Regions from separate parts of the Homo sapiens genome. Here region 2 is linked to region 1. A link means that fine-mapping ties the variant in region 1 to the expression of a gene that starts in the linked region. Tissue or cell type: pancreas. Region 1 holds a variant in brackets; the other region holds the start of a gene. All regions are shown on one strand. Distances are from middle to middle.

Region 1 (2,751 bases):
TGGCCTCCTCCCTTTGTCTTCCAGCTCCTGAGTTTCCAAGCTTAGTTAGCGTGGAAGACAGCAGACAACTGACTGGCCAGAGTAGCACAGCACATTCAGGCAATCAGTGTAGCAGCTCAGGGGCCTCTGGGAACTGGGGCTCAGGGAACCCTTCAGGGTAGAGGGGGCCTCTCACTGCACCCGCTTGTGCCCTGTACCTACCTCCACCCAAGCCTCTGACACTCCATAGCACTTACCTGTTTGCATGTCTGTCTAGTCTCCCATCCCCATCTGAAGTCTGAGCCCCATGAAGGTCTGGACCCTTTTCTCTAGAGTTTAGTCCAAGAACAGGTACTTCAAGTAAAGAGTTAGTTGATGGACTGTTGGCAGGAATTAAATTAGTACTGAGGCCCACCCTAAGCAGGGAAGCAGTATGAACAGACTTGGGGCTCAGGAGATGGTGAGAAGCCCAGGGGTGCTGGAGGGTAGTGGGGATGCACCTGGAAGAAGGCTGGGGTCTGCTGCTCCTCTTTCACCTGTCTCATTTTAAGAGATGATTTCTCTTAAAATGAAGAGACTTCTCCATTTCTTATTTTGAGAGATGAAGCCCAGTGACCCCCAAAATCAGGGTGTTTTCTTCTGAATTCTCTGTCTCAGCTCTAGAGGCTGGAGGAGTTGTGAGGGGCTTAGGGATCACAGTGGCTGCAGAAGGCTCTGAAAGGAGGGCTCTGGGAGCGTGAGATGGATCGGACTAGGGAGAGGACGTCAGGTTGGCCTGGGGTCTGGTTCTGCCTTTTCTCGGGGCAGGTCCTTTGCCCTCCCTGAGGCTTGGACTCTCCATTTGGAACTTAGCATCCTGATTCCCTTCCTGTCCTGAAAGTGTTTTTGGAGGAGCTTACTGTTCTGAGTATTAGGGAGATCTTAATAAAAGCCCATACATTCCTGATCCTTCTGGAAATTCCTGAGTAATTAGCACCTGTGGGCCCTAGGATGGAGCAACCTGCTGTCTTCTGGGGTTGCCCTGGGGGCTACCCTGTAGCTTTTGGTTGGGGCTGAGGCAGAGTAGAGGCTCCTGGGCTGGGCCCTGAGAACCAAGTCTGGGATTATTTTTACTCTTCTGTTCACAGCGCATGGCCCAGCTCCACGATGCCATCTGTCCCCCGCCTCCAGCTCTCCCCTGGCAGGCCCTCCTGGGTCACTGTGGTGCACTTGGGGAAGGAGGAGGAGGCTGGTGCTGGCTTACCCCATTCCATGAGCCGCAGGGCAGGGCGGTGCGTGGGAG[G/T]TTTGCCTGGTGGCAGGAGGCAGCTGCCAGCCCCGGGATGTGGGCCGCGGGCAGATAGGAGAAGCTCGCCAGTGACGGCTGTGAACCTGGAGCACCAGGGACACGTGGGGCTGGGAGCAACCCCATTTCGGTAACAAACCCTGTGGCCCAGGGCCTTGGATGACCTGCTGCCCTGCTTTTCCTGGGACAGACCCAATCCTAGGGACATGGAGTGCAGGTCCTCAGAAAACCCCACTCGTGGGGCAGGGTCTGGCATTAGGAGTCTTTGGTTCTCCCCAGGTGTGTGTTCTGCTGGGCTGCCCTAGGCCCAACTTCTGCAGGGACTGATGGTGCTCACTTCACCAGGCCAGTCCAGCTCAGCTTGGGTGAAGGAAGGGGAATTCTGAGGAGGAGCAGGGCCCAGAGACCATAGAAGGGGTCAGGTGGGGTAAGGGAGGTGGCGGCCCTCCTTTCCGTCTCCTGACATCCTGGCCTCCACCGCACCCTCCACCTGACTCAGGGCATCCATCTGTACTTAGTGTCAGGTCCAGAAGAAAATCTAGGCTACAACCAGGACTTAAGAGGCCTCAGGTATTAAAATGATTAATTAATTAAGTATTAATATTAGGCATTAGGGCTTCAGACTTTCTACTTGGCATTGTTTATGGCTTAGTAACAATGAAGACAATAAGAAATAGCTCTTATGAGCACTGACTGTGTCAGGCCCTACGCTAGATGACATCTCACTATGTCATCTCTCCTGCGGGACAGCCTTCCGGGATGGATCAGTTCCCCAGCCTTCTGAGCAGAGCCACACATGAAAGTCTGCAAGGTACTTCTAGAGGCCACTGGAGACTTCTGGGATCTGGGGAGGGAGTGTGAACCACAGATACTGCTAGCACAGAAAGGACCCTGGATCCCAAGGAGGGCATCCTTCTTGTTTTACAGATAAGCAAAATGAGGCCCAGAAAAATGAGAGGTGGTTTGTCTGTGGTTGTGTAGTTGGTGGTAGAACTGGAACCAAAGCCAGGCTCTTGCTTCCCATACATCACACTTCCATTCTACAAGCCTCCAAAATAAGCCCCAAAGGGATTTATGCACAATTCAAGCTCTTTTTCTGGTATGCCAAAATCCAGACATTTCCTGAGGTTTCTTTTGTTTCCCAAAACTAAGCACAGAGCAATCTGTTCTCCCCACAGAGAAATCATTATTCCACAATAACACTTAACAAATATCCCTTCGTTTGTTCATTCTGTGTTCATCAGCTCTGTGCAGCGTGCTGAGGACTTACAGAGGAAGACAGCTGTCCCTGTCCCCATGGTGTCTAAAGTGTGGTGGAGACCAGTCCTTACTGGGAGATGGGGGCTGGATATGGAAATGCAGGAATCTGCTAAGGTTGGAGTCATCTTCCCAGAGGGAGTGACATATGGCTGGACCTTAAGGCTGAGCAAGAGTTGGTCCGGTGAACAAGGAATGGAAGGGAAGTTTCAGGTAGCAGCACCTCCACCAGG
Region 2 (2,751 bases), 23 kb before region 1:
ACGCCTTCACCTTGCAGGACTGGATGCTTAGCTCAGTCATTGCTTGAAACACTTTTGGAATACCTCTCTTGGAAACAACTTTGGCATCGATAGCACTTTCCTTTCAATATCTTCCACGGTAGCAATTGTTTTTCATTTATGCAGCATTTATCATGCACTTCCCTATCCCAGGCACCAGGCTGGATCTGTGTGAAAGATAAGATAAATCAGACATTACTCTGTCTTCAAGGAAGTTTCTGTTTGGCAAGGGAGATAAGATCTAGACAACCACCCAACACAAGGCTAAGTGATAATGCCCCAGAAAAGGTTGGATTTGATTTTTGGAAAAAGCCAAAAGTCCTTTGGTTTCAGTCTCCTGGCCAGGTAGATGATGGCGCTACCTGCCAGCACACTGCTTTAAGCCCGTTTGTCCTAAGCGTCTCCAAACAAGGAGCCCAGCGTGTTTCCAGCACCTCCTGCCCCAATAAGAGACTCCTGGGCATGTGTGTCTGAAGTCCAGACTCTCACCGATGGCAGTATACACCGAGGCCTCCCCAGCTAAACTCTGAGCTCTTTGAGGGCAGGTGCTGACGGCTGATCCTGATCTTCACAGTATCTGGACTCATCACACATCTTAGATGAATATTCATTGAGTCACTGAGCCCAGAAGGCGTCCCATGGCATGCCACATGGACTTCAAACCGAGTGCCCTTTCTCCCATGTGGTTTACTCGTAGTGGCGGTTTTACAGATGCCCAAGGGGCAGGAGAGAAAAACGGAAAGAGCTAAAGCCGGGGAGGGCAAGCGAGGGGGCACTGGCAGCGGATCTGGGAATGGAGCCCGCGAGTTCCTGCTTCCTGGTTCCCCGGAGCAAGTGTCCTTTGGTGGGAGCCGCAGGAAGGGAGCAGCCCTTCCTGCGCGCCGGGAGCCCGCCCCTTCCCCGGCCTCCCAGGGACTCGTGCGGAGGGACGCCGGGTGGCGGGGCGGGAGTCTGGGCCCCGTCCACCCCCCCGCCCCCGGGACAGCCCCACCCCGGCGAAGAGGAAGGCTCTCGGCTCCTGGGAAAGGGAGTCGGGACCCCGCCAGGAGGGGAGGGCGCGGGGCGCGCAACGAGCAGCCAAACAGTCGGAGCGGAGAGATCGAAGGGCTAGTGGGCGTGGGGGCCGCAGCCGAGGCCCGGGTGGAGGGGTCCCCGCCGTCCCTCGGCCCCCTCCCCCGCCGCCCGCCCCGGCCCGGCCCGGCCCCGCCCCGCCCCGGCGGCCCGGCCCCTCGCCCGCCCGCGCGCGGCGCAGTCTCCTCCCCGAGGTGCCGGTGGCCCCGCCGCCACTCCCTCCGGCTCCCTCCCTCCCGCCGCGGCGCGCATCTCATTCCAGCCCTCATTCCGCGCATTCCAGCGTCCTCCTCGCACACTCGAGGCCAGGGGGCGGGAGGGCCGCAGCTCCGGCGCCGCCGCGTCCCGCCAGGTGAGAGGCGCCCGCGCCCGCCGCACCCGCCGGCGCCCTCACGGGCCGCGCGCCCCACGCCGCCGCAGCCGACCGCTCGCGCCGCGTGCTCGGCTGCTCTTTTCTTTCCGCCGCCCGCGTTCCCGCCTTGGACCTCTGCGCTCCGACGCGCTCCGTCCCGACCTCTGGCTTCCCTCCGCGCTCCGGCGCTGCTCGCTGCCCCTCTCCCGCTTCCCTCCTGTCCGCCCCGCGCTCCCCTCCTCGCTCCCGGTTGACTCACTCCTCCAGGAATAGGGATCCCCGTGTTTTCCCGTCAGTCCCATTCTGGGAAAACTCCTCCCTCCGCGCGCTCCGCTCCGCTCCGCTGGGCGCACCGGGGCCGGTCGGCGCGGGGTGGGCTTGGCCCCGCGGCCCCGCCTTCACTGCGCCGCCCGTCGGCCCCGGCCGGAGCCCGGCTCTGCGCGCTGACGCCCTGTCGTCCCCGCAGAACGATCGCCGCGGCCGGAAGAGTTGGCGCTCGGGGCGGACTCCTTGGAACTGGCTTAGCGCACCCATCCCACCTTCCCGCACCCTGGGACCGGTAAGGCTGGGGCGCGGGGACTTGGTAGGACTTTGCCGGAGGGCAGGAGTCTGCGCGGTGCGTGCGGAGCTCCCTCCCGGGACGAGACTGGGAAGAGCGAGGCACGTGGAGGCGGCGCGACTGAGGCTGCTGGAGGCGAAGCGGCTCCAGGGGCGGGTAAGGGGGGTGGACACTCGGGACTTTGGGGGAAAGGGAGGCCGGTGTGGAAAGGACCGGAGAGGCAGAACCGAGAGCATCGGCAACAGAAGAGACCCAGCACCCATGCCTCTTTTCTGCTGGGCCCTTTTCGAGCCTGGAAGGGAGAGACCTGGAGGTAAGCGGACTGCCTGTTTTAAGTGCAAAGGCGATGCGAAAGTCGGGGGACCCCTGCAAAAGGTCCTACACCTCAGGGCTTGGGAAGCTGCTGTGTTTCCTGATGGGGACTAGTGGATCGATCCAGGGAGCAGAACTTTCAAACCCCAAAGTGAACATTTCCCCCGTTGTGCTGAGGCACTTGAGGCCCCGCGGACTGACTGCGTCTGTGCTGAGTCTGTGTGACACCTGACTGCGAGTCCCCCTCGCTTTGAGTCTCTGTGTGGGTGATGTCTGTTCACGTGTGGCTCACCTTGGCTTCCAGTGGGCGTATTTGTTTGTGTTGAACGTGAGTGACAGAGTGTGTGTATATGTCTGCGTGAGAAGGGGCTGTCTGAAAGTGAGTATCTCTGAGTAGGTGTGTGATGCCACGTCTCTTGAGTATGTGTTTCTCTTCGAG

The links. PIP is the estimated chance that this variant, and not a neighbour inherited with it, causes the effect.
Region 2: it holds the start of TEAD4, and the variant in region 1 is fine-mapped to the expression of TEAD4 in pancreas (GTEx, PIP above 0.99).

What each region holds. Positions count from the first base shown.
Region 1 is chr12:2,981,325-2,984,075 of GRCh38, forward strand. All of the region lies in intron 2 of TEAD4 (TEA domain transcription factor 4), which reads left to right. Among named protein-coding and RNA genes, the nearest start is that of TEAD4, 23 kb to the left of the region's middle. RefSeq lists an enhancer at 1-325. The variant G/T (reference allele first, on the strand shown) is at 1,262.
Region 2 is chr12:2,958,041-2,960,791 of GRCh38, forward strand. TEAD4 (TEA domain transcription factor 4) reads left to right here and starts at 1,357. Exons shown (of 13, transcript NM_003213.4): 1 at 1,357-1,441; 2 at 1,908-2,000. It overlaps LOC124902859 (a long non-coding RNA gene), which reads right to left and starts at 2,008. Exons shown (of 2, transcript XR_007063159.1): 1 at 1,701-2,008; 2 at 1-185. RefSeq lists an enhancer at 1,527-2,262.